Linked DNA regions of Homo sapiens: region 2 is linked to region 1. A link means that fine-mapping ties the variant in region 1 to the expression of a gene that starts in the linked region. Tissue or cell type: aorta. Region 1 holds a variant in brackets; the other region holds the start of a gene. All regions are shown on one strand. Distances are between the middles of the regions.

The links. PIP is the estimated chance that this variant, and not a neighbour inherited with it, causes the effect.
Region 2: it holds the start of SAXO2, and the variant in region 1 is fine-mapped to the expression of SAXO2 in aorta (GTEx, PIP above 0.99).

What each region holds. Positions count from the first base shown.
Region 1 is chr15:82,421,760-82,426,965 of GRCh38, forward strand. It overlaps a transcript of GOLGA6L9 not described here. Among named protein-coding and RNA genes, the nearest start is that of GOLGA6L9, 5.5 kb to the right of the region's middle. The variant A/T (reference allele first, on the strand shown) is at 2,654.
Region 2 is chr15:82,259,698-82,264,827 of GRCh38, forward strand. SAXO2 (stabilizer of axonemal microtubules 2) reads left to right here and starts at 3,121. Exons shown (of 4, transcript NM_001348699.2): 1 at 3,121-3,235. The coding sequence starts at 3,183. EFL1 (elongation factor like GTPase 1) reads right to left here and starts at 3,037. Exons shown (of 20, transcript NM_024580.6): 1 at 2,917-3,037; 2 at 1,991-2,100. The coding sequence starts at 2,081. RefSeq lists a silencer at 967-1,153 and enhancers at 3,162-3,251, 3,272-3,341.

The DNA of each region.
Region 1 (5,206 bases):
ACATGGTGAGAACTCGTTTCTGTAAAAAATACCCCAACACCACCAAAAAAAAAAAAAAAAAAAAAGTAGCTGGGTATGGGGCACGTGTCTGTAGTCACAGCTAGTCAGGAGGCTGAGGAGGGAGGATCACTTGAGCTCAGGAGGCAAGGGCTGCACGTGCATGCCACTGCAGTCCAGCCTGGGTGACAGAGTGAGACTCCGTCTCAGAATAAAATGAAATAAAGAAATAAAAAATGTAATTGTTGAAATAAAAAACTCAGTGGATGGATTAGACATCAGAAGAAAGAATTAGTTGGTTAGACAATTATCTCCCAAAAGTGAGTCAGTATGTTACACAGAGAGACATGAGGATAGATGATAGGGCAGAAGTTGGTGGGGTTGTAGGGGGAGGGAGATCAGAATGAGGTCTAAAATATGTCTTAGTGGAATCCCAGGAGGAGATATTAAAATTATATTAGAAAGTGAGAGAAATAGAAGTTCTAAAGGCAATAGAAGGAAGTCCACATAAATCAGTCACAACAAATGTAAATGGACTAAAGTTACCAGTTAGGTGGAACTAATAAAAGAATATCCAGCTGTTTTAATCCATCATATTTAAAATATAAGGATATGAGAAGATTGAAAGTTTTTATAAAGGAGAGAGAGTAATGAAGATATGGCAGTATACATTAACCAAAAACAAGTGATGGAGCTTCAGTATCAAAAAAGGATTTTGGAACAGAAAGCATTAGTAAGAAACTTGATGCTGACTGTTAATTAGGAGGATGTAGCAATTTTCATATTTTATGTACCTGTCAAAATAGCCTCAAAATGCAGGAGAAAAACTGATAAAACCACAGGGAGAAATTGACAAGTCTGCCAGCATATTTGGAGATTTCACCATACCCTGCTTACCATAAGTAAGTTACACAGAATGCCCATATGTAGATTTGAATAACCAGTGAATGGACATGGTGTAATGGACAAATATAGGCCTTTGTACCCAATAATTAGATATTCTATATTCTTCTCAAGCATATGTGGACTGTGGGAGAAACATTAATTATATATTAATTCGTAAAGCAAGTCAGAAGATTTAAAAACAATTGGTACCATCCACACCATATAATTTATAATTTAAATATGAAGCAATTAAGGTTAGAAGGCAATAATGAAGAGATTAACAAAAAGCTACATGAATTTGGAAATTAAACACCCTTGTAATTCATGGTATAAAAAACTCAATACAATTTTAGAATGCTTAGAATTGAACCATAGTTAAAATATGAAACTTCTCTCTGTTCCTGTCTCTCTCCCTCTCCCTCTCTCTTCCTATCTGGAACATTCAAGAAGCTAATCTTTTTCAATGAAGAACACCCCAAATACTGAAAAGTAGGAAAAAGACAGATGGCATTTCATGGTAATCCCTTCCCCCAAGAGTGTAGAATGTTTCTTTAGCTTCTTTGATAGTTTGTTTACTTATTTATTAAGTACTTACTATAAACCAGACTCTGCTTTAATTTGTGATGAACAACCTAGAGATTAAGTCCTGCCCTATGGATTTTATATTAGAGTGAGAAAAACAGATAGCTAAGTCTGGAGCTCAGGGGTGAGGCCCAGGTTGGAATTATAGATTCACTTGACCAAGGTGAAACCTGGTGTGCCCCCTCCTACTTCACATCCCCAGACATACTTCTGGAACATTTCTGTTCTATTCTTGTGTATAAACTCTTCCTTTTGAGCCTCTCTCCATTAATGCATGTCAACCTCTACTTGTCTTTTGTTGATTTTGAGGCCACTTGCCCATATAACTTGGAGGATATTGAAGAAGAATCATACCGACCTGGTTCTGCTACCTACCAGCTGAGTTACTTTGGTCAAGCTCTTGGACTTCTGAGGCTGTTTCCTAATTTCAAAAGTGGGTATATGATGTGTTAGGCCCTGGTGGGTTGCAAGGAAGAGGTACACACATACCACCTTTGATGATGAGGGCCGAATGTTAACTTGGATGGAAAGTCATCCAAACAGCGATATTGTCTCTGGCCCTAGTAATTTCAAAACCTCACAGAATATTAATTTAGCAGTATTTAGGATAGGGTTTGAGCTCTGAAGACCTACAGTATGGTTATTTGTTCATATGGCTGTTTTCCATACTAGACCATGAACTCCATGAGGGCAGGGTCTACAGTTTCATCTTTCTCTCCTAGGCACTCAGTTCAGTGCCTGATACATAATAATAGAGGCACAAATGTTTTAAGAGTTGAGGAATTTTCAACTCTTTCTGAAAGAATAGGAAGATATAAAGGCTTCTCAGAGACGGTATTATTTAAGCTGATTTTGTTTTTGTTTTTGAGATGAAGTCTTGCTCTCTCGCCCAAGATGGAGTGCAATGGCGTGATCTCAGCTCACTGCAACCTCTGCTTACCAGGTTCAAGTGATTCTTCTGCCTCAGTCTCCCGAGTAGCTGGGATTACAGGCATCCACCACCACACCCAGCTATTTTTTGTATTTTTAGTAAAGACGAGGTTTCACCATGTTGGCCAGGCTAGTCTCAAACTACTGATCTGAGGTGATCCGCCCACCTTGGCCTCCCAGAGTGCTGGGATTATAGGCATGAGCCACCATGCCCGGCTTATTTAAGCTGATTCTTTAAGGGTAAGTAGAAATTTTTTCC[A/T]GGTGAATAAAACCTTGAGCTATTATTCCAAGCAGAGACCAGTAGGTGCAAAGACACAGGGATATAGAGATGTTGAAGTTTACCAAACACTGCTAGATTAAAAAAACAAAAAGGAAACTATCAAAATCAAAAATTAAAATTAAAAATCACCTATAATACAAGCTATGAATGGGCTTGGCCAGAGGTCAGATCGCAACTGAGTTAACTATGACCGTAGACACTCAGTAATCGATGGAAGTTTTAGGGAAAACACATAACATTCTCAGGTTGTTGGCAGAGTATCTGGAACAATTTACAAATACGGGCATTGAATTCTGGGAATAATTACACTGTAGTGATATCATTTCCTTCTCTGCGTATGAAGCATGTATGTATTGCACACTGTTCAAGGTGCTGAAAATCAGACTCTTCTCGAGCAATCAAGGGAGATGGATGGGTGAGCAACTGATTATCATGTGACAAGTGAGGTAACAGAGATATGACTAAGATGGTATCTAAACAAGAAGAAAGGAATTATTCATAATATATGGAGTTCTGGGGAAATATTTCTCAAATGAAGCCGGCCGGGCCGGATGGCTCCCACTTGTAATACCGGCACTTTGGGAGGTGGAAGTGGGAGGATCCAGGAGGATCTAGGAGTTCAAGACCAGCCTGGTCAACAGAGCAAAGCCCTGCCTGTTTCTATATTTGAAAAAAAATAAGTAAATTTTTTTAATGAAATGATATTTGAGCACTCTGGAGCACCATACAAATATAGGACAGACTGAAGGAATGTACCTGGCTTGAGTTAACATTTATTGAAATTTTATATTGCAAAAATAGTACATATTCACTGTTTTGAAACTAGAAAGAATTGATAGGCAAGGAGGGCTGTCTACAAAGCACTCCATAGATCCACCATACTGAGACAATGCTTAATGCTTTGATGGATTTATTGTATACTATCTATGCATATGCATGTATTATATACATACATGTGCATGGTTAAATAGAAATATTTCTCCTTGGTGTTAATCCATTTATTGTTATGCAGTAAATCCCCAAAGAGCACATTTGCTTTGCCCAAGGGAGTCTTTTGCTACATACTGCTGTACATAATGAAAACTAAAAAATTGGCTAACTTTTCAGCCTTGTGACCTTGTGGTGATTCAAATAGAGGCTTCATCAAAGGCAGATTCAGAAATGAACTTGGTATGTGGGTGGTTATGCTTGGCATTATTGTTTGTAATAGTATGATAGGGATGACTTCAGTGTCCACCAACAGGGAACTGGTTAAGTAAACTGTGGTACATCCAAACGATGAATACTGTGCGGTTGTAAAGAAGAATGACAAAGACCTCTGTACTCATGTAGAAGAACTCACATATATTGTGTGTGTTTTAAGAGGAACAAGGAATGGTATAGTATGTATGGTATGCTACTTTTTGTGTTGAGAGAGAAGAGTAGAATAAGAATATACGTGTGTATTTGCAAACATAAATTCTGAAATGATATATAAGAAACCAATTAAAAGTGTTTGGCTGTAGAAGGAGAATAAGACTGTGAATGGGATTTGGCCACATACTTTTATAGGTAGTTATATTTAAAAATTTTCTGAACCATGTGTTTGTACACATGACCTTTTTAAAAATAAGTGAATGAAGGAATGAAGTAGGATTATGAGAAAGAGATAAGAACAAATGATCTAAGGGGCTGCCCATCTTTTTAGTACCCAGTGAATATTAATATATAACAATAGCAGCAAAAATTGGAAGAGTAGCCCCAGGAGGGTAGGGAGTCAGCCTTTCCTTTGTCTTTTCCTCAATTTCATATATTAAACAAAATAATCTGAGAACGATAAAACAATTTGAAATAAAAAATGTCTCCAGATCTCTTAAAAGGAAGCTGGGGCAGCTTTCTGTAGCGCACTTCCCAAAAATGGGCTGATTTACCTCAAGAGGCAGGGATTCTAGCCTACATGGGATACATACAGGAGAAAACAAAATCAGAAAAAGAAAAGATATTTAAATATAAATAAATGAAAATAACAATTCTCCCTCATTATAAAGGAAATCATTCTTTTTGTAATAATTTGGATGACAAATATTAAGAAAAATCTTTAATTTGCCACTCAAAACATTGTGGTTTGTTGCTTTTTATACGTTTTTATGCACATAAACCTTTTAAAAAGTAGAATCGTAGTATGTAGTCTTTTGTCACTTACTATATTTTGGGCATATTTCTGTGGCAGTAAATATATCCTGGCATCATCATTTTTAATAGCTGGATGTATATTAAGTTAATCACTGCCACCCCAGAGGTGAATTTTCTTATACACACATTTTAATGGGCTCGAGCAAACATTTTTGGACTGAATTCATAGAAGTAGAATTTCTGGAGGAAAATAATTTTTAGGGTTTTTAATAGAAATTTTCAAATCATTCTCCAGGAAAAGTGACTCAGGTTATACTCCCACCAACAAGGACAGAGCTCCAGGTTCCCCTTTCCATTTGTCATCTTTCCTGCCTTTATACAGAAAATCTCATTGTTTTCATGACATTTCTTTGATTTCTT
Region 2 (5,130 bases), 160 kb before region 1:
GAGATTTTATGTGATATAAACAGGTGATTCTGTGTAAAGAATGTCAGGGGTATGCATAATTACTACAACTGGGTTGGAGTAAGCAAAGGAGGGTTTTTTTCCTTCAAGACAAGTCTTTATTGCACTTTAGGAACTTCAGCAAAGCTATGGAATCTCTGTATTGTTCAAACCAGAGACCAATGAGTAGGAGAACTGAAGATATTTAACACTGCTATCTGTCTGCAATGTAAATATGTATTAGCATATAATCCTAGAGCATCACTTTCCTGCTACCCAGTAAAGCTGAATTTATTCTAAGTACACCAAGTATATACCTCCCTAGAAAATAATTATCAAGCAAGCAGGAACTTTGCTTTATTCACAGCAGTATCCCTAGGACCAGAACAACGCTTGTCATATAGAAGACCTTCAGAAAATACTTGTTGAATGGATGAATCCCAGGTTTTTTAGGATAGTAGCAGCTTAACATAATTTTAAACAATACATTTAAAGTAATTTGTTACACCCCACTAACTTTCCACTTGAATAAATTCATAAAGAAAAAAAAAACCCTTTTATCAGCCTTCACATTCTCAAAATGTGAGCAGTAAAATTATAAAAACTCATGGAGGCAGGGGTTACTCACTGGATTTGTACTAAAACTCATTCACAGCTGGCTTCACTTGTAAGTGATCCACTATCTGTCTTTCTGTCAGTTTCCATACTCACATTACTTCAGCTCTTCTATCAATGACAACAGCCACCTAATCTCTGACTTTGGATCCATCCTAAGCATGTCTACCAATCTAATCTTTCTCATGTTTTATTTGATTACATCATTCCTGCTCCATGTTTTCCCCCAAAGGCTCCCTACTGCCTAATAGTAGACATTAATGATCGTTTTCATGGTGAAGCGTTTACCTTCCCTCTCATTATTATCACATTTAATCCTATAGCCTATAAAGCAGGTATAGTTTTCATCCTGTTTTACAGATGCTGTATATTGAAGCTCAAAAAGGCAAGGTATGTAACTTGAAAATGGAGATCTGAACTTAGGTTGTCTAACTCCAGAGCTGGAGCACTCAACTCTTATCCCAGTTCCTAGCTGGCATGAGCAGCTCTATGAGATATGACTCAGCCTGCTTCTTCACCTCGCCAACTGGTCCTTCATCTTCAGGATGGTAAATATGTTTTATTTCATATGCCCATCCCAATCACTTTGCTGTGGTTACCTAAACTACCAAGAGGTTTGAAATCAAGAGGAGGCTTAGCATGAAGGAGCGCTATGGAGTTACAGCAGTATCTGTCAGAAGAACATACCATGGGTTAGCTATCTCTGCCTTTCCCATATACTGGGCTTTGACCACATATATTTCCCTCTCCCCTTGATGACACATTCCCACCTGTAATGATTATCTCCATTTGTCATCTTGAGCCCCCTTCAAGTGTCATCTCTAATACTAATTATGTTGTGAGGTCTTTTCCTAACCCCTCACTTCCTAATCCTCTAGTTCTCCCAACCTTAGAGTCTACTTTTTTCTCTTGTTTGTCTCATTTTGCTCTGCTCCCCGTTAAAACCTCCCCTGGGCTAGTGCCCTACTCATAAATCTCCACCTTCAGACATACTAAGCAAAATATCTTGAACTTAACAGACGTTTGATAAATATCTGATGAATTAAATAGGATCACATACCACAGACTCTAAGGACATTATGTCAAGACTACAGACATTTTATATGTAAAGCCATTTCAAAAACAAAAAATTCAAGTTCTGCTTTAAAAAACAACATGACATAATATATAGAAGAATGCTACTCACTAGGTAACCGTGTTCATTTCAAATGCTTTATAGCAAAGCAGGCTTCCCTAACATCACACAAAACTTTTAAAGAAAGAAGACTTGCTTCTTAGCAAACATCACTCTCAGCTGTCCACAGCTTCACTCCACTGAGACATACAGAGACACATCTCCCTTATTTATCAAAATAAGCCATTTAAAAAGTATTCTTACCATGGTCAACATGAGCCAAAACACAAATATTCCTGATGTTGGCAGTGTTTTTCTGGAGTTGAATCATCTTATCCAAACTGTTGAGCACCATGATTACTTATTTCCTGTGACTAAAAATTAAATATGTATTACAAATGGCCCAGAGGCTAAAGGTCGGGGCAAAAGAAAAAAATAATAATAAACGCTGGGAGGTGGCAAGCTTCTCAAACCCCTTAAACCAAGAACCCAGTGAATGTTTATTGATGAGATAGACCACCAAGGCCTAAGTCCAGTTCGAGCACTAAAGTCAGTATCCTACCACGATTACACTTAAGGAGTTTGCTCATCCTTCCGGATCCAAAGGCTGCGATGAATCACGCAGCTCGAGGGGACTGGGTGCACAGTGACACCAGTAACCCTGCCGGTGGAGGAGTACTCCAGTAAACATCTCCAGGCCAATGACCACGTACAGGAAGGGTTGCATCCAGGAGGGAGAGAAAATGCTGAAGAAGATGCTCCCTTTCTCTCTTCAGTCTTCCCCCAAGTCCCTCATTCTGACATTCTCGCTCGTCCTCGCGCGAGGTCAAATACCCAGCTTTATTCCTGCCCATGGAGCCCGAACAAAGTTTTGGGTCACGTGCTTATTATCCAAGCAGGTGCACTGCCGGTCTTTCATTCCTTTCTAAATAAAAAGGAAAAACCTCTACACTACATGCCCTTCATTTCTGCAGGGTCCCAGATTCGTTCTCTTTGAGGATCCTGGGTCCACACAGACAGGCGACCGCCCCGGCCCCAGACGGGAAGCGGCACTCCGGGGACCGAAGCTCCCAGCCCGCGCTCGGCCCCAGCCCCTGTTCCCGCCTCAGAGCCGCAGCGAGCGGGTTCCTCCGGCACCGCCCAAAGGCTGGCCTAGGAGGTTCCAGCCCCCAGCGCCAGCCCACACTCACCGGCTGCAGCAGCCCCACCAGCCCCGCTCCTTCTCTCGGGTCGCACCCACACCGAGAGCTTCCGAAAGTCCGAGAGCTCTGCGGGTCCGACACGCCCGCGCGCCAGGGGGCGGGGCCGGCTGTCGCTCGACCTTTCACCCGCACGTCTCTGACGCCGCCGGAAGCCGGCGCCGAGTCTGTCACCGGGCATCCCTCTGTTGCCTTGACTACGGCGGGCGCTGTGGGAGTGGAGAAGCTGCAAGTGCTGAGGCGCGGTGGAGGAAAGCATGGGAGCCAAGAGTATGAGGAGCTGGTGTCTGTGTCAGATTTGTAGCTGCGGGTAAGAAACGGCTGGTGTAGCGGCGGGCCCGGGCTTGGGAGCCGACCTAGGGCCTAGGTGCACGGAGCCGGCTCCTCGGGAACCCTGAGAGTGGCCGTCCCCCGGAGATGAAGGGACGAGGGCGCAGCGACATCCCCACTTATCCCGCTCCGCGAATACTCGCTCCTCACCCGCCTGCTACCCGGGGGTAAAACGTTTGTTCGTAGCCCCTGAGACTCCCAATCAAGGATGCAAAGTAAAATGCCACCCGGGCCAGGTAAGTAATATATGTGAAGCCGCGACGGGATATAACGCTGGTGAGTAGTGGGATGTGATCCGACTGGGAGAGTGCATTTCCACCCCATAATCCCCCACCACGAAGATGAGAAAGAACAGTGCTCAAGGCCCTGAGTCTGCAACCCATATCACATTTTCTTTCATCTGTAGCTTTCTGTCCTCCCAGCCAGACCATATTCCCATTCCCGTCCAGGCAGCAGTTCTTTGGGATCCGCCTGACTGAAAAGTCAGTAAGTAGTCCCTACCCTGAAATCTAGAATCCAACTGTGAGTCCTGCCTAACAACCTTCCATCACCTGTAAACACAGTCCTCTCCTTCCTCAGCTTCACTATTGACCCAGGGATTAGATCATTATTTGCTAAGTAAATATGAACGTTGTCAATCCCTGGTGTATTTGTAATCCCATTCAAAGAAAACACCTACATGTTGATGGAAAGCAGTTTTTTTAATAGTCTCATAATAAACACAGTTCATAATTATATATAGATTAAAATATCAACAAATTAACTTTGGGTGTATGAATCCTCAGACTGGTGTGCAGGAGAAAATTTTTACTTTTCTCCTAATTTATATTCAACGCAAGTTCCTTTCTCATTCAACTGTAAGGAAATTCAGTCTTCATTATGTTGAGGGCCACCATTGGAATGGCGTGATTTTACTTCTTGTTTGTTTGTTTTGGGCTGTGGTTGTTAGTTTTGTCTTTTTAAGGGTTTATTTTTATTTTTTGACAATGCAATAAATACACAAGAAGTATCATAAAAATCTAAGCAAAAATATCTATAATATTGTAAAACGCCTTCATAATTCTATCTTCCACAGATAACAAATGTTCTTTAAGACTTGTTTTACATATGCATTGATTTTTTTTTTTTTTTTTTTTTGAGACAGAGTCTGGCTCTCTTGCCAGGCTGGAGTGCAGTGGCGCAATCTCGGCTCACTGCAATCTCCGCCTCCCGGGTTCAAGCAATTCTCCTGCCTCAGCCTCTCTGAGTAGCTGGGATTACAGGCTCGTGCGACCACACCCAGCTAATTTTTGTATTTTTAGTAGAGACGGGGTTTCACCATGTTGGCCTCCATCTCCTGACCTCATGATCTGCCTGCCTCGGCTTCCCAAAGTGCTGGGATTACAGGCGTGAGCCACTGCGCCTGGCCTGCATTGATTTTTTTTTTTTTTTAACAAAAAAAGAGAATATTCTGAGCATACTATTCTACAATCCGGTTTTTTACTATTTACAATCTCACCAACTTCCAATGATCATGCATAAAGACCACCCTCATTCTCTTAAATAACTGTATACTATTAGCTTATATGATATATTGGTCAAGGTTCTTAGTTGTGGATAACGTAATCTCCTCTGGTTAGTCTAGGCAAAAAGGAATTTATTAAGGAGTATATATATAGTTCACTTGGAAGAACTTAAGAAATCATTTTCAAAATAAGCTTCCACAAAAATTTTACCACAGACCAGGACTGACAAGGGAGCCACTGCCTCTGCCATAATCAGAAAATTGCAACAGAGCTGTAGACTCCAGAATCACTCGTCTCTTCCAAGGTCAAGAAGCTGCCAAGTTAGGAAACCAGCTTGCAAATCAAGATGCCGCCTAACAACTTCTAGCTC